Linked DNA regions of Homo sapiens: region 1 is linked to region 2. The links come from fine-mapping of genetic effects on gene expression. A gene starts in region 2. The other region holds a variant in brackets. All regions are shown on one strand. Distances are between the middles of the regions.

The links. PIP is the estimated chance that this variant, and not a neighbour inherited with it, causes the effect.
Region 1: its variant is the best candidate, but not a certain one, in a credible set for the expression of TM9SF3 in whole blood (TOPMed, PIP 0.74).

Annotation. Positions count from the first base shown.
Region 1 is chr10:96,556,192-96,561,570 of GRCh38, forward strand. It overlaps TM9SF3 (transmembrane 9 superfamily member 3), which reads right to left. Exons shown (of 15, transcript NM_020123.4): 5 at 3,468-3,545. It also overlaps the pseudogene NPM1P26. Among named protein-coding and RNA genes, the nearest start is that of TM9SF3, 28 kb to the right of the region's middle. The variant T/C (reference allele first, on the strand shown) is at 2,902.
Region 2 is chr10:96,584,762-96,590,140 of GRCh38, forward strand. It overlaps TM9SF3 (transmembrane 9 superfamily member 3), which reads right to left and starts at 2,251. Exons shown (of 15, transcript NM_020123.4): 1 at 1,973-2,251. The coding sequence starts at 2,074. It overlaps LOC105378443 (a long non-coding RNA gene), which reads left to right and starts at 2,303. Exons shown (of 3, transcript XR_946220.4): 1 at 2,303-3,582. RefSeq lists silencers at 1,911-2,480, 4,415-4,484 and an enhancer at 3,359-3,418.

The DNA of each region.
Region 1 (5,379 bases), 29 kb before region 2:
GCCAGCACCCTCTAGTGTCACTAATCCTGAAGCTGCACCCTCAATTTGTCATAAATTTAGAATGCAACTGGAGATAAATAACTATACCAACAATACTGCCTCTTACCTGCTATGTGCCAAACACTGAACTAGGTGCTTTATATCAACGTGAAATTCCCCAACAGCTCTGCAAGGTACTATAATCCTTGCTTCACTATTAAGGGAACAGAAGCTGAAGAACTGAATCATTTAACCAAGGTCATAGTAAGCGGCAAAGCATCAGTTTGAATTCAGCTTTAGCTCCTTTGCCTGTGCTATTAGTCACTGTATTAGAAGCAATTCTTATACTTGTACAGTACATCATATCCCTTCCTTCTACTTAAGGAAAACGATGCAGTATTTCTCTCCTTTTTCTCCTGCATTGCCAGTTTTGCAATCTCCACTGAACCCCATCAGCATATAAAGTTAATGTTTTTCTTACATTTAAAAAAAAAAGAAAGAAAAATCTCCTAATTCCATTTTCCACACTGGCTACTGCACCATTTCTTTGCTCCCTTTAGCAGCCAAGCTCCTCACAAGTCCATAATTGCCGTCTCCAATTCCTCTTTTCCCATTCTCTCTTACAGCAGCTCTGTTCAGGTTCTGAATGCCCCACCATTATACCAAAATCGTTGTCAAGTTCACCAATGACTTCAGGTTAATCCAATAGTCACTTTTCAGTGCTCATCTTACTTGACCCATCAGCAAAAATTCAGAGCTAATCTCTCTATCCTCCATGATACACTTTCTTCTCTTGGCATTCAGAACACCATACTTTCCCCTCCCCCGCAAAGCCCTTAACTGAACTCCCCTGTTCTTCCTAAACTCTTACTACTGCACCCAGGGCTTAGTCCTTGGTCCTCTTCTCTCTCTACATCTCCCTTCCTTAGCAATTATTACATCCAGTCTCATAGCCACAAATATGATCTATATGCCAATTGCTGCAAAATTTGTATCTCTAGCCCAGACCTCTCTCCTGAACTCCAGAACTGATATATCCAATTTGCCGGTCAATATCTCCATTTGGATATCGTACAGACACACCAAAACGAACATGTCCCAAACTGTACCCTAATCTTCCCCTCTAAATCTCCTCCAAATACAGCCCCAGTGATGTCAGCTCCACTCAGACTGAAAACCCTAGAGTTTGTCTCAACCCTTCTTCACCTTCCTATCAATCACGAAATGCCGCCAGCTTTAACTTCAAAATATACTCACAATCTAACATCTTTTCATCACCTACCCTGCTACCACCCTTGACTTCCTGAACCCACATAATAATTTGATCCTTTAAAAACAAAAGTCAGATTTGTTACCCCCCTGCTGAAAACACTACAGTGCTCCCCTGCCCCCTTTGCATTTAAGAGTAAAATCTGCAGTCCTTAAAATGACCATGGATAATCTGGCTCCTGCTACCTCTCTGACTTCATCTTCTTGCTAGTCCTCAAACCACAGTAAGCATATCCTCACTTTAATAGGCTTTTCAATGGTGTTGCCTCCACCTGGAATACTCTTTCCCCTAAATATCCACATTCTTTATTTCCTTCAACTCCTTCAAGCTTTTGCTCAACAATCCATTTCAGAGGCTTACCTTGACTACATAATATAAAACTGCAACTTACCCGACCCCTGGTACTCTTGTTCTGCTGTCTACTTTTTCTTTTTTGACACACTTCTCTTTGAATAAAGTGTGTTTTACTTATTGTGTTTATTTCACGTCTCCTTGACTAGAACGTAAGTTCCTAGAGGGTATAGATCTTTGCCTTTATTTTCTAATGTATCCTACTTACCTAATACAGTGCTTGGCAGATAGCAGGTGCTCAATTAATATGTGTTGAAGTAATAAATACAGTATACCATTCCATAGTGAAAATACTAAAAGGCAGTCTTTCCCCTAAGTTGTCAATGTCCAGTGGGGCTAGAATCAAGGCAGACCTAAGAGTTCCAGTAGTGAGTGCCAGTTAAGAGCCTTCATATTCTCAAATGTTATCTAAATCTTGAAATTATCTGTGTCCATACCCTATTGAAGATTGCCTGAGCATTATACTCGAGGAGAACACACAGCAGGTGGGGTTGAGGTGGGGATTGAGGTAGGGGAAAAATTTTAGCTCCAAGAGTAGTATGCTAAATCCTTCAGTAAAGACAATCCAGGCAGGGCGCGGTGGCTCACGCCTGTAATCTCAGCACTTTGGGAGGCTAAGGGCAGGTGGATCACTTGAGGTCAGGAGCTCAAGACCAGCCTGACCAACATGGTGAAACCCCACCCCTACTAAAAAAAATACAAAAATTAGCCGGGCATGATGGTGTGTGCCTGTAATCCCAGCTACTCGGGAGGCTGAGGCAGGAGAATCGCTTGAACCAAGGAGGCGGAGGTTGCAGTGAGCCAAGATCATGCCACTGCACTCCAGCCCAGGGGACAGAGCAAGGCTCTGTCTCAAAAAAAAAAAAAAAGACTAAATTCCAAATAGCTTAATTGTTAAAATCTCTGACCCCTGAGTAAGATCAGAAGTAGTGATAGGTTCCGGTAGAGTCTAAGAATGGAACCTAACAGTAATATGTAAATCTGAGACAACAAAAACTTACGGGCCATCTCAAAAATAGGTGATTAATAAACTTTAAAATTCTAGTCCAAAAGATTAGATCAAAAGAAAGAAGCAACAATTCAGGAAGAAATTCAGAAGAAGGGATACCCTTATGCCTTGTCTTTTTATCTCCATCCTTGAGGAGGAAACCACCAAAACAAAGTGTGATTTTTGCTATAAAGAATCAAAACTACCTGTACAAAACCAACACTAATGCTACCGGCTTTATGAACTAAAATTCAGCAAGTATCTGTCGGTGGGGGCTGGGGAACTGGGAGGCCATTTCTTCCCATTCTTGATG[T/C]TTCTTTCTACATGGAAGGATTTCCACAAGCAGAAATTCCTGATCTCAATCCGTTCTCTCATTACCTCCTTCTGATGCATACATTCTGTTCTTTCTCACACCGTAAGTTGTATAAGGGCAAGTGCCCATGTAGGGAAGCCTATAATATACTCTCTGAGTGTGTTAAGTCTAATTCTGAGTTTCAGTAGTAAGAAGCCCACTTGATCACAGATAGATATAAGCCACATTCTCCAATATTCACCTCATTAGAAGGCCAATGCGCTATTCATTGTGCAACGCAGCCATCTAATATTCACCTTATTAGTGATATTTTGGCTTCCCGTATGTTATATTCTTCGTTTATCTCTTAATTGGTTTAAACCACAAGCACAAAGAAGGAAGTTTTTGATTGCTCCTCTAAAACTCCCCATCACCCTTATGATTTCAAGCTCATACTTTAAATCACCATTAGCTAAATCTTTTAATCCACAGTCCTCAACACAGTGCCCTGCAAATGACAGATACTCAATGTTTGTTGAACGAATTGGTGCACATAATCAATGTCTTAAAATACACTATTTACCTACCCGATGTTGAAAAAAGGACGGATCAAGATATTTGTCAAATCGATCTTCAAATTTCACATCTGACTTTTTCCATTTTACCTAAAAAAAATTTTTTCATTTGAAAATAAAGGCCAGTAAACAAATTAATAATCTGATGACAAAACTCTGAGCAAAATATAGATTTACACACACTTAGAATTAAAATTCACTAGAGAAATGGAGGAAAGTTACTTACAACATGAGAAGTGGAAACGATTATGATAAAACTAATCAACTTTTCTGTTTATTGACAAAACTTAACAACTTTCCTCAGAGGGGTGATTTCAGTTCTCAAGGACTGTTTACTTTTGTTGACTTACATATTATGACCTGATAAATGTGATATGAACTGAATTAGTATAAGCTCATATCACAAGTGTCTAAATCAATTAAAATAAGAATCTGTACATCTGCCTGGTGTAATTCTGTCCTGCGTGGCTGTTCTCTTGAGCAGAAGTCATTTATCTCCGTCTGCCTTCTTTCCCACCTAAATGCGTGCTGCCACCCCATGGAAGATTCGATGGACATGGACATGAGCCCCCTGAGGCCCCAGAACTATCTTTTCAGTTGTGAACTAAAGGCCAACAAAGATGATCACTTTAAGGTGGATAATGATGAAAATGAGCACCAATTATCTTTAAGAACGGTCAGTTTAGGGGCTGGTGCAAAGGATGAATTGCATATTGTTGAAGCAGAGGCAATGAATTATGAAGGCAGTCCAATTAAATAACACTGGCACCTTTGAAAATGTCTGCACAGCCAACGGTTTCCCTTGGGGGCTTTGAAATCACACCACCAGTGCTTTTATGGTTGAAGTGTGGTTCAGGGCCAGTGTATATTAGTGGACAGCATTTAGTAGCTGTGGAGGAAGATGCAGAATCAGAAGATGAACAGGAGGAGGCGAAATTCTTAAGGATATCTGGAAAGTGATCTGTCCCTGGAGGTGGTAGCAAGGTTCCACAGAAAAAAGTAAAACTTGCTGCTGATGAAGATGATGATGATGATGATGACGATTTTGATGAGGAAACTAAAGAAAAACCACCAGTGAAGAAATCTACATGAGATAATCCAGCCAAAAATGCACAAAAGTCAAATCAGAATGGAAAAGACTCAAAACTATCAACACTAAGATCAAAAGGACAAAAATCCTTCAAAAACAGGAAAAAAAATTCCTAAAACACCAAAAGGACCTAGTTCTGTAGAAAACATTAAAGCAAAAATGCAAGCAAGTATACAAAAAGTGCATTGAACAGTTCAGGGCACTACTGGTAAATTAAGCCCAAAGATGGGGAGAAAAGAAAAGGAGAGACAAATATAGTCCATACTGAGTATCATCAACAATCCAGACTGAAGTCTTCTATTTTAATCTCAATCTCCTTTTCTGATCTGCCATGGATGCCTCTTTAGGCTGGAAACAATCTCACTCTTGGTTCCCTAAAGCAGTTTCTTCTGATTGCTGTGATTCAGTGAACCTTGCCCTTTGCTTTCTATTACTTGCACATTCGCCTCTCCTCTGACCATGTTCTGAATCACCTTCGTATCTCCTTAGCTGCTCAATAAATATTTGAATGAATAATAAAAAAAAATCTGTAAATCTTTATTTTTAGACTGCATTACTTTTATTACAACTATAAAATTTTTTCATTAAGTTTAGTTATATAAGGATTATTTGCATCAGGTACATATGCACAAGGCTTGAAAAACTTTCAAAATTGACTACTAGCAATGGACTCATTCCAGCTATGAGGCAATAACTGGCAGAGGCTACCTACACTGAATTTCTCTCTCATTTTTACTATTTTTAAGCCTAAGACAACAGAAATAGCTTGACAGTTGCTAAAAGGCTCTGACAAGCTCTCACTGTGCAGGAGTATATTATTCCAACTGACAGAGC
Region 2 (5,379 bases):
GACAGCACCACTGCACTCCAGCCTGGGCAACAGAGTGGGACTCTGTCTCAAAAATAAATAAATAAATAATAGGTATTTAATAATGGGTAACCAAGTAAGAGCAGTTCAATATAGACATGAAGTAATATGGATTCTAAATTTTTTGTCTAGCAACCATCTCATATATACCATATTATCTTTCGTGGCAGTCAACAAAAACCTTTTATCAAATATCTTATATGCAATTACTAGAATAAAAAACTGAAATAGTCCTAGCAATAAAACTGCATTGAAATTACACTTTTAATTTGTAAATTATTCTAAAGCCTTTATATACACCCAATTTGTAAAATTTTAATGGTTTCCCTAATCACAGCAGTGTAAGTCACAAGATTACAAGATTAAAAAGTAGAATACAGTACACTTTTGAGCTTATATGCCTGTATCACGGAACTACACATTGAGAGTTCTGAGTTTCATATGGTAACTTTTCCTAAGTGTTTTTTTAATTGGAAATATATTAGTAATAATATCATTAAACAGAAGGATGGATGCCCACTGAAAATTTAAAAATACTCAAAGACCCAAATCTATACATGGTCCCTGTATACTATGTGAAACAATAGCAGTTCTTAAACTTTGAGACAGCTTATCTGATGAAAGAACACAAAAGGAAATCGTTTTAAGCTGTTTAACCTCCCAACAAAATTATCTTAGGTGAAACACCACAAGTACAGTACAAAAACATGTCACCAATTCGAGATTTGTGTCTCTAAAGAAATACATACCTACACAGGTAAGAAGTTTCTGGCTGTGACCGAAGGTAGAACAGTCAAAAGTTTAGAGCTTTTATTAGCTAAAATAAGATCCCAGCTAGCCAAGGATCCAGCGAAAAGTTTTGTTGATTACAAATAAAATCGGATCCATTAAATAGGTAAGGACGACTGCTTCATTTCCTCACTTACCAGAAATGACATAAGACTCCCTCAGATCGTTCTGATTTAGTACAAACACAGTCTCTCATAGAAACTCCTATCATTAATGGTAAAGGTATAAAAAACAATTACTCGTCAAGCAAACTCTCAATTTACCTGACCTTCCTGCCTTGCTCAAGTCTACCACTCTGAAAACCACAGTTACAGCCCTAAGTGAAAGCCATTTGAAGAGTCGTTCACATGCACGTTTTGATGTGAGAATACCAATTAAACAAACTGCCAATCACCTTTAGGCCAAATGCAAAAGGGACTGTTTCTGGCCCTGACCTGAAGACTGGGAAACGTCAAGACCCTTTACTGTCAGAAGCTGCCTTAGTTAGAGACTATCGGGATGGGGGTCTCACTTAGGGGCTGGAAGGTGAGGAGAAAGTTACAAGAAAGGCCTAGGAATTGAACGCGTGTAGGTTGGGTGCACTTACAAGTAAGTATAAACTGCTCTTCAATTCAAGTTTATTAATGCTGCCCCACCCCAGGGTTTTAATCCGGTCTGGGCAGAAGCGGGCGATAAAAGCCAAAGGAGACCATAAAGTGTAGGATATTTCCTGGTTAGTGGCTGCCGGGTAATCACGATGCATCCATCTTCCTCGGCGTCGCAGCCCTCAGTAGCCAGAAGGCAGTCTCCTTCCCTGGGGGGCAAAAGCCCCGAGCCCAGCCTGCCCGTTGCCCCGCTCCCGCGGTGGATGAACCTCAACCCTTCCCAGGCTCCTTCCTGGCCCCAGGGTCCCAGGAACCCCGAGACCCTGGGGTGCGGCGCCACTGAGGCCCAGACCGGGGGAAGGAGACCCTGTCACTCGGGAGCGGAGCCCTGTCCCGGGAGCGCACGGAAATGCCTCCTCCACGCTCCCAAGGTTCCTGCTCCGCCAGGCCCAACCGGAAGGAGTCCTCGGGCCGCAGTGGGGCACCACCGGGCCGCCGGGCACTCCAGGCTGCGTGGGGCCTGCCTCAGTGGGCAACTGGGGAGCTAGCCCGGGGCGGCCGCGCCGGCCGGGGCGCCTCACCGTGTGTTCGTGCTCGTCCGCCCGGGTCCGGGGCAGCAGCAGCAGCAGCAGCCACAGCGCGGCGGCCGCCGCCACGCCAAGAGCGCCAGGCAGCGGCCTCATCCTCCGCGCCCCTCCGGCCCGGAGCCGGCTCACCGACTCCTCCTCCCGCCGCCGCCTCCTCCGCCGCCGCCGCCTCCGCCGCGGCCGATTCGCATCCACGGGGCGCGGACAGACGCACGGGGCCCGGCCCAGCCGCTGCCTCCTCTGCCGCCGCCGTCGCCGTCACCGCCCGCTCCTGAGCCTCCCCCGCCCCCCGCGCCTCCTCAGCCTCTTCCTCTGACTCAGCCACGTCATCCGGCCACCCCGGCACGCGCCGGAAGTGCCTCGCGACGCGGGGCCGCCACCGCCGCCGGGCCGAGGGAGGGCCCGGCAACCGCCGCCTGCGCGCCGGCTGCCCCTCGGCTCCTGGGAGCCGCGGCGCTACGGGCCTGCCGAGCACTCGGGCGGGCGCCGAGCAGGCTGGGCCCCGGCGCAGTGGCCTAGCCTGGACCGCAAGGCCGAAGCCGCCTCCGGGCCGCGTCCCGGTGTTTCGGGTTGTGTAACCTTGGCCAAAATGCTTAAGCTTTTTTCCTGGCTGCCAAATGGGGCCGATCGTCTGACCTGCTGCCTCCGGAACTTGAGGGATCAGATCAAATAACCCTTTCCTGGCGCTCGTCTGCCGCTGTGAATGAATCACGGGCTCCTGTAATCACCGTTAGGAGAGATTGTTAAACTCGTACAGGGTTGGATGTTTTAAAGTTACTGAATATTTACTGGACCCCTACTGTTCAATCAAGACATGCTAAGTTAGCTTGCCATTCTTGTTCATTTATGTGTTTACTTAACTATTTCTGGGTCTCCTCTTCCCAGTCATAAATATCTCTTGGAGTGTAAGCTCCTCGGAGCAGAGATCCTGTTTCCGTATTTCCTGTACCTAGAACAGTGCCAGATCCGTAGTAGACACTGAAACAAAAAATCTTTAAAAAAAAAAAAATATACGAATGTGGCACCACCATTTACACAGGCCACTAAGCCAAAAATCTCGAACTTGTCAGATTGTCTCTTCTCAGCCATCAGCAGTCAACAAGTTCTAGCATTTGGTCTCTTAAAAGTGGTTCAAGAGTTTATTTTTCCTCTCCTTCCTCTGCCAGTACCAACCAGTCTTCCGTATCACTATGTATTGCAAGAGTCTCACAAGAAGATATCCATCACTGACTGATCTTCCTCCCGTTTAACATCCCCAACAGGTGCCAGGGTGATGTTTTTTTTATTCTAAAAAGAAACCAGATTATATCGCTCACTCCCTTGCTTAAAACAGTTCTTCAATGTTAGGTAAATAAATCATGGAGTCACCACGAGGGCGTTCATCTGCCAGGCACTATTCTGAACGATATTGGCTCATTAAATTCTCACAGAAACCCTATGCAGCAGGTACGGTGAAAATGTTCCTGTTACAGATGAGGTAACTGAAGCACAGAGAGCTTGAGTGGCTTGCTGAAACACCAGACCCACTCAGTCTGGCTCCATAATAGGTCTTTTTGCTGGTAATGATTTACCAACTATACAGCCACTTTAAAAAAAGGAAATAGGTAAGTACTGGCATGGAATGATAACCAAGAGGTTCTGTTAAATTTTCAAGTTGAAGAAAATAAGAGTTTAACTTCATTTTATATGGCAATATGTTAGTCTGCCCATAGAAAACAATCTGAAAGATTATAACAAACTACTATCAGTGGTTAACTTTCTACTTTGTACATGCCTATAAATGTTTGGTTATTTTTTACAGTGAGCATGTGCTAACTATGTAATCAGAAAAAAAGTTCCCTGCTAAAGGATAAAGTCCAAATTTTTGCCTATTTTATCCCTAATTTATTTCCCTAACTTTACCTTCCACCAATTTCTATGCTCTGCATTCACCCGTATATATTTTTACACCTCTGTGCCTTTGCTCTTTATACTCCCTTTATCTGGCATGCTCTGCTTCACCTTGTGCCTTAGATATTATCCTTTCAGACCTAGCTGATGATCACCTCCTCAGTGAAACCTTGCATGATCCCTTGAGAAATGGAGCATTCCTTCTTTGGGATTTCAATAGCATTTGGCGTGTTGTGTTGTAATTATCTATTCACATTTCCTCTTCTACACTGCATTCGGACCTTTTTGATTGCAGGGACTATGATTTGTTTGTCTTTATATCTGTCCCAGCTGCTGAGATAGTGCTTGTCACATCATAGGTATTCAACTCTTTGCTGAATGAATGAAGACATTAACAAGTGAAAAGTCAAATAGCATAGCAAGATTTGAAGAATGCTTTCTAGATAGTGTAAGAAACATCACAAAGCAGTACATGATTAATTGCTGAATGAATCATACACCAGTAATTGCTGTAGAAATCAGAGGAGGCATCTTATACATCTTTGTATATCCTCCCGAGCACCTAGCAGGGTGACTTGCTCATAGTGAAAGCTCAGTCAATTCTGTGAATGAATAATCACTGCTCTTGAATGAAGTGATGATGTGCAATTGAAGAACAAGCCGTGTAAGTGCTACATTAAGATGGATGTGTAGTTTCTTAAGTATCCATCACCACCCTCCACAGATTTGAGGTAGTATGCATGTGGCAGGTGTTTTGGGGAGGACTGGGTTGGCAAATGCTTGGAGGTAGGGAGGACACAAGAAAAAGTATATTCATTTAGGGAGGATAGATTAAAACCAGGAAACTACACACACAACAAAGAACAGGCATGACAGTGTACTTTTAAAAAGGAACACAAAAGCTGGCCAACTGTGCAAATGGTCAACAGGCAGTAAAAGCAATGGGCAATGAGAGAAGTGGAAAGAAACCCTATTTCAGAGGAGTATTTGGGAAAATTTAATGGATGGAAGAGCAGGTAGAGCCATTAATTCAACGATTATTTATTAAGCCTCTACTATGTACCAGGCACTCTGGTAGGTACTAGGGGAATTATGCTGATAAATGGCATTAGGTGATACAAGTCTGACAGCAGTAGGTGTGGAAAGAAGGAAAGGGAGATAAAGTAACTGATTAGAGTAAAAGAAGTGTGGCTTCAAAGATCCTAGGTGCCTGATGACCTCAACAGGACAAAACAGGGCTCAGGTCACCATCAAAATTAGGGTTGTTTCACTAAACTGGGGAGTGAAAAACATTAACATACCTTATTTCACCACTTATTTCATCTGGGTGAATGACCTCATTCCCTGACACCAAAAAGGATGGCAGCGGTGGGGAGAAAATGCCGGTGAAAGGCATTTCCCACCTCCCCCAGTGGCTATACAGCCTCTTTTCTATGGTAGCTCTAATAAGACTCCATTTTGGTTAAAGAGCTTATGACCAGCAAGCAATCCAGAAAACCAAAATGTCAGTC